Regions from separate parts of the Homo sapiens genome. Here all the other regions are reported to be linked to region 2. Evidence: microRNA targets listed by miRTarBase, many of them from high-throughput screens and not tested one by one. Region 2 holds a microRNA gene; each other region holds the end of a gene's coding sequence.

What was found. The annotated mature microRNA hsa-miR-6893-3p reads CCCUGCUGCCUUCACCUGCCAG and lies in region 2 at 2,173-2,194, shown strand. An mRNA with a match to its seed (bases 2 to 7 or 8) in the 3' UTR can be bound and repressed. Matches are read on the target gene's strand: a 7mer-m8 pairs with bases 2 to 8, a 7mer-A1 pairs with bases 2 to 7 and ends in A, and an 8mer does both.
Region 1: miRTarBase lists ZSWIM9 as a target of hsa-miR-6893-3p. Seed matches in the 3' UTR shown: 7mer-A1 at 2,195-2,201 and 7mer-m8 at 2,002-2,008.
Region 3: miRTarBase lists WDPCP as a target of hsa-miR-6893-3p. Seed matches in the 3' UTR shown: 7mer-A1 at 1,615-1,621.

The regions. Positions count from the first base shown.
Region 1 is chr19:48,196,563-48,199,562 of GRCh38, reverse strand. ZSWIM9 (zinc finger SWIM-type containing 9) reads right to left here. Exons shown (of 4, transcript NM_199341.4): 4 at 1,943-3,000. The coding sequence ends at 2,736. Among named protein-coding and RNA genes, the nearest start is that of ZSWIM9, 27 kb to the right of the region's middle. RefSeq lists an enhancer at 2,537-3,000.
Region 2 is chr8:144,434,401-144,437,744 of GRCh38, reverse strand. MIR6893 (microRNA 6893) reads left to right here and starts at 2,126; the gene lies at 2,126-2,194. It overlaps TONSL (tonsoku like, DNA repair protein), which reads left to right. Exons shown (of 26, transcript NM_013432.5): 14 at 646-718; 15 at 825-988; 16 at 1,064-1,187; 17 at 1,327-2,087; 18 at 2,195-2,271; 19 at 2,575-2,728; 20 at 2,856-2,934. It overlaps TONSL-AS1 (TONSL antisense RNA 1), which reads right to left and starts at 2,577. Exons shown (of 6, transcript NR_109770.1): 1 at 2,305-2,577; 2 at 750-994; 3 at 1-46.
Region 3 is chr2:63,119,021-63,122,364 of GRCh38, forward strand. WDPCP (WD repeat containing planar cell polarity effector) reads right to left here. Exons shown (of 18, transcript NM_015910.7): 18 at 539-3,036. The coding sequence ends at 2,986. It also overlaps the pseudogene DBIL5P2. Among named protein-coding and RNA genes, the nearest start is that of OTX1, 70 kb to the left of the region's middle.

The sequences.
Region 1 (3,000 bases), not on the chromosome of region 2:
GTCAGCTGCCATCAAAGCCTTTGACTTCGCATGACTTGAACCACTGAATCATTTTTTTTCTTTTTTTTTTTTTTTGACAGAGTCTCGCTCTGTCACCCAGGCTGGAGTGCAGTGGCACGATCTTGGCTCACTGCAACCTGCGCCTCTTGGGTTCAAGCAATTCTCATGCTTCAGCCTCCCAAGTAGCTGGGACTACAGGCACCCGCCACCACATCTGGCTAATTTTTGTATTTTTAGTAGAGACAGGATTTTGCCTTGCTGGCCAGGCTGGTCTTGAACTCCTGGCCTTAAGTGATCCACCTACCTCAGCCTCCCAAAGTGCTGGAATTACAGGTGTGAGCCACCACACCCGGCCTGAATTGTCTTTTATCTCAAGTTCCTTCATTGCTACTCAAAGTGTGCTCCACAACCCAGCACAGCCACATCATCGGAGAGCTTGCTAGAATGTTGGGCCCTATCTTAGACCTACTGAGTCAGACTCTGTATTTTAAGAAGGTGCCCACGTGACTCACGTCCACGCTAAAGTTTGAAAAATGCTGAGCTACTTCAACCTGGACTTTGTCACCTATAATAGAATTAAATCCCCTTCATCAGTTGCGACAACAGAAACCCCAACTCAAACTTCCCTAAATCATTAGGGTATCTTTGATTGGCCAGGTGCAATGGCCCACATCTGTAATTCTAGCACTTTGGGAGGCTGAAGCAGGGGCATCGCTTGAGGCCAGGAGTTTGAGAACAGCCCAAGTAACGTAGCAAGAGACCTCATCTTTACAAAAAGTTAAAAAAAAGAAAAGAAAAGAAAAGAAAAAGAAATTAGCTAGGTGGTAGCACGAGCCTATAGTCCTAGCTACTCAGGAGGCTGAGCTGGAGGATCCCTTGGGCCCAAGAGCTGGAAGGCTGCAGTGAGCTATGTTTGCACCACTGCACTCCAGCCTGGGCCAGAGCGAGACACTGTCTCTAACAAAAAAGGATATATTTTACTTAAGAAGCCCCATGGTAGAGCAGACTCGAGAGACTCAACTGAGCCAAGCAAAGATCCAGATTTTCTTCATCTCAGCTCTGTCATCCTCAGTGTGGACTTCATTATCACACCATACCAAGGTAATCATCAGCAGGTCTAGGCCTGATCATGTCTCTAGGCCTTCTTAGGAGTGATAGAATCTTTATTAGAAGCCTCCTAGGCCGGGCGCAGTGGCTTACGCTTGTGATCCCAGCACTTTAGGAGGCTGAGGCGAGCAGGTCACCTGAGGTCAGGAGTTTGAGACCAGCCTGGCCAACATGGTGAAACCCCGTCTCTACTAAAAATACAAAAATTTGCCAGGTGTGATGGCGCACACCTGTAATCCCAGCTACTCAGGTGACTGAGGTATGAAAATCACTTGAACCTGGGAGGTGGAGGTTGCAGTGAGCCGGGAACGTGCCATTGCATTCCAGCCTGGGTAACAGAGCAAGACTCAAAAAAAAAAAAAAAAAAGCTTCCTAGTTCTGAGCACAGTGGCTCACACCTGTAATCCCAGCACTTTGGGAGGCTGTGGCAGGAGGATTGCTTAAGCCGAGGAGTCCAAGACCAGCCTGAGTAACATAGCAAGACCCTGTTTCTACAAAAATATAAAAATAAAAAAGCCTCCCACCTCAACCTGAGCAGACTCGTTGACCAGGACTGGGTCACAGGCCCATTCTGTGGCCAGGACATTTGGCATGAGTCAGTCATTTGAAGGTAGAATCGACTCATGTCAAGAAGTTGCCACTGGGACGCACTGGTCCAGATGATGGAGGAGGAAGCTTGAGTTGCTATGGAGATGAATTCATTGTGGCTCCTCTATCCATCTGGCCCCAGGAGGCCTTGTCGGTAGAAAGAATGAAGGAACGCTGGACCATCTCAACTGTTCCCTGGATCTGGGACTCCCAACCAACCCCAGAAGCCAAGAACTCATCACGGAAACCAAAATAAGATTGTTTTATTCCAATCCTGAAGAACAATAGTCCAAACAATTCCCCTCCCCTGCTGGAGACTCTCCTGACCCCCAGTGCCCGCCCTCCCTCTCTCTTCAGAAGGCGATGGGGGTCGATGTCTCCAGGTCTTGGAGAAAAACCAAAACCACGCCCCTTGCATTTCGTCTCTACCCGTCTCCCACACATTTCTTTTGTCTCATCTCCGATTTTTCTTCCCCCTCCTACATCCCGTCCCTTCCTCTCCTGCTTCCCCCAGCTTTTCCTCATGTCTTCATTTCTGTCTCTTTGCTTGTCCTCTCTCCTCCATTTCCGGCTCCCCTTTCCATTTTTTCTCGCTTACCTCCTCTCCTTCATCTGTCTTCTGTACTTTCTCCCTTTCCCCTCTCCCCGCTGCACTCCCTAGACTGGCCAGTCTACTCTTGCCAGACACTCCCCATATGATCGCTTCCTCCCCCTCCCCCCAGCTCTGCCCCTTTCCTTCCTTCTGTCCCAGCCTGACCCTGTCTACACCTCTCATCACATGCTTCCTCTCCAGAGGGAAGCCCTCAGAATCCACCCTGCCCATCAACACCTTCCCAAGCTGTGGCTCCAGGACCTCAGAGACCACTTACAGCTTGCCCTTGGACCCAGAGAGGCAAACTGCCATGAGGAGGTCCCTGGATGACCCAGAAGGTGGCCAGGGGGACTGCAACGGTCTCCTTGGCCTCAGCCCTATTATCTTTGGGATCGAAGAATGCCCTCCGACCCTCCTGGTGGAGGGTGGTGGGCAGAGGCATGAAGGGTCAGGGCTCTGGGGCTCTCCCCCAGCAATCCCTGAGCAGGTCCATGTGGAATAAGGCAGCCCCAGTGAGGAGGCGCGCTGCAAAGAGGTGTCTGCAGGGCAGACGGCGGGCGGCGTGAATTGAGCAGCTGCAGCGTGTCAGGGCCCCATCCAGGAAGAAGTCCGAGGTGCCGTCCTTAAGGGCAAAGCCAGCTCCGGTCCAGTGGAAACCCCGGGTCCCATGCTGCCTAGCAAAGGCCAACTCCTCAGCCACCAGGTCTGCCAGC
Region 2 (3,344 bases):
GTAGTCCCAGCTACTCGGGAGGCTGAGGCAGGAGAATCGCTTGAACCTGGGAGGCGGAGGTTGCGGTGAGATGAGATTGCGCCGCTGCACTCCAGCCTGGGTGACAGAGCGAGACTCTGTCTCAAAAAAAAACACAAAAAAATGGGGTGCCCAGGCTGGGCGCGGTGGTTCATACCTGTAATCCCAGCACTTTGGGAGGCCAAGGTGGGCAGATCACGAGGTCAGGAGCTTGAGACCAGCCTGGCTGGTCTCAAAAAAAAAATGGGGTACCTGCTGTGTGGTATGCATCTGTGTTACAGCTAAGTTGGTCAGCCTGGCCAGGATGGGGGCTAGCCCATGGGCTGAGATCTGGGCACCTTCCCGCCCCGCCTGCCTCATGCCCCTGCGACCAGGTGCACTGTCTCCCCACAAGGGGACCGGGCAGGCACAGAGGCGGAGGATATGCTGTGGCTGGTCCACCTGTCTCAGGGGGAAGCATGTCCTTCACTGGTGACACCTAGGCCGGAGGAGGAGAGGGCAGGGCCACGGACTTGCTCTGGGCTCTAAGACTGAGGCCCTGGGCTCAGCTTAGGCTGCAGAGCTCACGGGGCTGGGGCCAGGCTGTGAGGTACACAGGGCCAGGCTCCTTCCTGTCCTTGGTCACAGGGCCACCCCCTTAACCCTCGGGACTACTGTGGCTGGACACCTCTGCACGAGGCCTGCAACTACGGGCATCTAGGTGAGCAAGGGACAGAAGGAGCCTGGCGCACCTTGGTGGACACGTGGGGCGAAGAGTCAGTCCTGGCGGGGCATCGGGAGCTGGGCTTACGTCTCCTGGTCTGCAGAAATTGTCCGCTTCCTGCTGGACCACGGGGCCGCAGTGGACGACCCAGGTGGCCAGGGCTGCGAAGGCATCACCCCCCTCCACGATGCCCTCAACTGTGGCCACTTCGAGGTGGCTGAGCTGCTGCTTGAACGGGGGGCGTCCGTCACCCTCCGCACTCGAAAGGTGAGCCTGGTGGGGCAGAGGGCAAGGGCGAGGTTATGGGGGCTGCTGTGCCCCTGCTCAACTGATGCCACACAGGGCCTCAGCCCGCTGGAGACGCTGCAGCAGTGGGTGAAGCTGTACCGCAGGGACCTGGACCTGGAGACGCGGCAGAAGGCCAGGGCCATGGAGATGCTGCTCCAGGCGGCTGCCTCGGGCCAAGGCAAGCAGGGCGTCCCTTGTCCCTGGGGTTGCTGTGCCTACGCTGAGAGTCCCCGGGCCCTGATTTCGGGAGATGCTCCATCACAGGTGGAGCGGGAGGTGCCGGGCCCCTGCCTCAACACGCATTCTCTCTCCCACAGATCCCCACAGCTCCCAGGCCTTCCACACCCCAAGCAGCCTTCTGTTTGACCCCGAGACCTCTCCTCCTTTGAGCCCCTGCCCAGAACCCCCCTCTAATAGCACTAGACTCCCAGAGGCCTCTCAGGCCCATGTCAGGGTCTCCCCAGGGCAGGCGGCACCAGCCATGGCCAGGCCTCGGAGGAGCAGGCATGGGCCAGCCAGCAGCAGCAGCAGCTCAGAAGGCGAGGACAGCGCAGGCCCCGCACGGCCGTCCCAGAAGAGGCCTCGGTGCTCGGCCACAGCACAACGGGTGGCAGCCTGGACGCCTGGCCCCGCCAGCAACAGGGAAGCAGCCACAGCCAGCACCAGCCGGGCAGCCTACCAGGCAGCCATCCGGGGTGTGGGCAGTGCTCAGAGCCGGCTGGGGCCTGGCCCACCGCGGGGCCACAGCAAAGCCCTTGCCCCCCAGGCAGCGCTCATCCCGGAGGAGGAGTGCCTGGCCGGGGACTGGCTGGAGCTGGACATGCCCCTGACCCGCAGCCGCCGGCCCCGCCCCCGGGGCACTGGAGACAACCGCAGGCCCAGTAGTACCTCTGGGTCGGACAGTGAGGAGAGCAGGCCCCGTGCCCGAGCCAAGCAGGTCCGCCTGACCTGCATGCAGAGTTGCAGTGCGCCAGTTAACGCAGGGCCCAGCAGCCTGGCTTCAGAACCTCCAGGGAGCCCCAGCACCCCCAGGGTCTCAGAGCCCAGTGGGGACAGCTCTGCGGCAGGCCAGCCCTTGGTGGGTATGCAGACCTGGAGCAGAGCCCTCTCCCCACTCCGGGCAGGCAGGTGTAGGGTGGAGCCCACTGTGGCTCCTGACTCAGCCCTGCTGCCTTCACCTGCCAGGGTCCGGCCCCGCCCCCTCCCATCCGGGTTCGAGTTCAAGTTCAGGATCATCTCTTCCTCATCCCTGTCCCACACAGGTGAGGCATCGCCTGCCCTACCCCGCAGCCCACCTGTGCAGCTCCATGCCAGGGTGCTCGTGTTTGCATGTCAGGGTGGGGCGTGTGACGAGGGCTCCCTGGTGTGTTCCAGGAGGATCCTGTGGCCCCCAGGAATAGCAGAGGGGCTGGTGGTGTGCTGGGCTGCAGGGAGAGGAGGGGCCGGCTACCTGGGAATGGGAGAAGCAGCTGAGGGGGCTTCTGGCCCTGGGCAGGGATGGCGGGTCCCTGGGGCATTACCCCGGCTGTGTGCAGGCAGCAGCAGCAGCGCCTCTGTCCCTGCAGCAGTGACACCCACTCTGTGGCCTGGCTGGCCGAGCAGGCGGCCCAGCGCTACTACCAGACCTGCGGGCTGCTGCCCAGGCTCACCCTACGGAAAGAGGGGGCCCTGCTGGCCCCACAGGACCTCATCCCTGATGTGCTGCAGAGCAATGACGAGGTGAGCCGCAGAGCGGAGGGGGAGCCAGGGCCTCAGGCACCGGGAGCCCCCGGGTGGCTCATGGCTGCAGAGCAATGATGAGGTGAGCCGGGGGAGCCCCCAGGTGGCTCATGACGGTGCCTTCCAGGTGTTGGCTGAGGTGACTTCGTGGGACCTGCCCCCGTTGACTGACCGCTACCGCAGGGCCTGCCAGAGCCTGGGGCAAGGTGAGGGCCAGGAGAGCTGCAGTTTCTGGGTGAGGTCGTACAAGGGGGTTGGGCACACAGGCTCCACCAGCCCGGTTCATTCCTGGGCCTCGGGTGTTTTGGGGTGCACCTCCCCCAGCCTGGTGGGTGCTGTGTCCTGCACTTGGATGTGTGGGTGGAAGGGAGAGGACAGCCCTCAGCCCCCATGATCTGCTGACAGGGAGATGGCAAAAAGCAGCCGAAAGCCTGGAAAGTCAAACCCAAGGAGGAGGGCCTGGCATGGGCTGGGAGCTGCTGGGGAAGCTTCCCAGAAAGCTTGTCCCGGGGGGTGTGGAATCTGGCAGTGACTGGTGGAGCTCAGGGTGCTGCAGACCCACCCCGGCCCCCAGGGCCTCACAGTGCTAGACCCACAGGCATGTGCGAGTGGGCTC
Region 3 (3,344 bases), not on the chromosome of region 2:
GCTTTTCTACTTTGGCAACATAGATCCTCATGGTGTCCATCTTAGACATCCCTTTGTTCACATTCCATGCCTCCTACTTGGCCTTGGCTTTCACATCTGAGGCTGAAGGGGCAGGGATGTTGCAGTCGCTCTGGGTGGGCTGTTTGCAGAAGCTGTACACCAGCAGTTTTCTCCTGATCGCACACAGTACCCTTCAGCTGCTTGAGGGCAGTGTGGGCCAGCTCAAACTCCACTTGGCACATTGTGGGAGGGGAGGCCAGGCCCCTCTGTCCTTTCTAGGTGACACCTGGTGCTAGAAGGCTCATCAGGTTTCTTCATCGATAGAGTAGGGATGATGATGATGATGTATCTTCCTCACTGAGTTTCATTGAGAATCCCTATGTAGGTACAGGGCTATGTGTGTTGTAGCACTGATCAAACTCTCAGTAGAGAGTGGTATAATTATAACTCCTTAACAAACATTTCAAGATACTAAGAAGAAAGTATAATACCAAGTTTTGGTTACACAGCCTTTTAATGAAGCAAAAACTTTTAGACATTAGCATTCCAAGCAAAGTTTATTCTAGCAATAAGACACAATGTGACAGCTAATATAAATTACTGTGGAAATTACCTCAGATCTGAGAAATCTGGAAAATAGTTGAAAAAGCTCATGGGTCTATTCCTAAAGGACAACCTGTGAACCTGTCAGTGCTAGGACAGATACTACCTAGCTGTTCCTGCCTATACCACTCTTCTTACTTTAGAGCTATGGTAGCCCCTTCATAATCCTTTCAGGTTCTAGCAGAGGAGGAATATCAATTTAATTAATATTCTCAGATTTACAACATCTGGGAAATAACAGCATTTATAAATCATGGACATTATCAAAGATCATTCATAATATATTCTTACTATCTAAACTTGGTTTTCTGTACATTTAACTTTTCTAGAGGTATGTGAAGTGGGGAAAATGGGTACTTTAAGAACTATGATTTGTTTAATTTTCACCTACATAACTGGCAAACATTTTCATTATTATTATCATTATGTAGAAAAACATAGATGTATCAATATCCATATTTTATCTTTAGTATCTCACAGGAAAGGTATTTTGGGTTAATGACTATTTACCCGGAAAATCTGGAGAAAATTCTGCAATCTTGACAAAACCCTATTTTTTTAAATACAATTTTTTCTCTAAAAATTAGTTAACTTTTGATTATCTGTGTGATAAAGAAGGTTGGGAATAGGAGAATGAAAATTTGCTGGTAACTCAGTTTGGCTTACATGTTATGCATTATTAAAATTTTTTCAGAGCAATAACAAAATGAAAAATCTAATTTGAGTTTCACCTTTTTTTGTCATACCCTCTGGTAGAGGTACAGATAAATGGGAAGTAGAAAGAAAAATTTGAAGTATAAAAGCCTTCAGTCTGATTAACTTTGAACTCTAAGATTTAATTATATAATGTAATTATTGTCTAATATTAAACAATGTTGATTATTATTATAGATGTCTATAATTTTTTTTTTTTTTTTTTTTGCAACGGAGTCTTACTTTGTCACCCAGGCTGGAGCGTAATGGTGCGACCTCAGCTCACTGCAGCCTCCGCCCTCCGGGTTCACGCCATTCTCCTGCTTCAGCCTCCCAAGTAGTTGGGACTACAGGTGCACGCCACCACGCCCGGCTAATTTTTTTTTTTTTTGTATTTTTAGTAGAGACGGGGTTTCACCATGTTGTCTAGGATGGTCTCCATCTCCTGACCTCGTGATTCGCCCGCCTTGGCCTCCCAAAGTGCTGGGATTACAGGCGTGAGCCACCGTGCCTGGCCTATAGATGTCTATAATTGTGAAATATCAGTTATCTGCTAAAGAATGGGTGTCAATAACTGTGAAGGGTATGAGATTTTACCCTACTTACTAGCTAACAAGTTACCACACTATAGTTTCATGGATGCTGTTAGAAGACATGAGACTCCTGAGTCAGAGACAAATGATAGTAACCAGGGTATCGGCATTTTTTTCTTTTCTTCATGGATTCTCTGAGCCCTATTCCTATAGAGCAATGTTAAGAGGGCTAGATGACACCTGCACACTCAATGGGCAGTGTAAAGGAGAGGCATTCTGAGTTTAAAGAACTCAAATCTCATATAAAAGTTGATAAGCATGCCTGCCCCTTTCTCCAGAGGGAAACAGTATCTGTGTTCTAAGGGGCAGTCAGGGCAAATTACTCATAGCAGTAATTCGAGAGAACCATGGAGAATTGTCTTCTAACAATGGATCTGGGCTGAAAAATTTGCATAATAAATACTGTATTTGTAATGTAAATTAATAATGTAAACAAGAGCAGAAGAGGACTTTCTTTCTTTCTTTTCTTTCTTTTTTTTTTTTTTTTTTTTTGGAGACAGGGTCACTCTCTGTTGCCCAGGTTAGAGTGCAGTGGCGCGATCACAGCTCACTGTAGCCTTGAACTCCTGGGCTCAAGCAATTCTTCTGCCTCAGCTTCACAAGCATGTACCACCATGCCTGGCTAATTTTTAAAATTTTTTCTAGAGACAGCGTTTCACTATGTTGCACAGGCTAGTCTTGAACTCCTGGGCTCAAGTGATCCTTCAGCCTTGGCCTCCTAAAGCACTGGGACTACAGGCATGAGCACTATGCCTGCCCCCTACTGCCCCTTTTTTAAAGTACCTGGGAGAACAAAGTTTAAATATTCTATTTTTGTAGCACCTAATTAACATACAATTTAAGACACTTTCAAAATTTTACATTATTGAAAATAAGTAGGTTGAAGACTTTTACTTACGATCACTTTGCTGTTATGCTGCATGTTTTTGAAATAATAAAACTTTATTTTGAAAACAAACACTCAACTCAAAACTCTTAACTAATTTATATGATTCATACTGTCTCTTGTTAAAAATCCACACGGGGGATTTTAAGTCTGTATCAGGCCATGAAAAGTTTAGATATGAAGAAGGCAGTTTTCTTTTTTTCTTAATGTTTACACCAGACCAAAGTGAATCATTTTGAGAGAACCACCATCTCTGATTTCCTGCAAATAAACAAATAAAAATAATGTTTAAGCAGAGTAAAAAGTAATTGACTTAACATTTGTATCTTTATTATTTTTAAGTACTGAAAAATAGTGAAACAAAATAAAATAGTTTAAAATGTACTGCACATAGATACATAAGATAACTGTATACTTACCTGACTTGGTCATCAAAATTTTGATACGATATTTATAAAAACTAGTCAAGAAATAATAAGCATTAAAAGGCAAAGAAAGGACAGGATGTTAATTGAAATTTAGAAGCATCTGAGGGTTCCTCCAATGAAAAATTGCAAACTGTGGGTCAT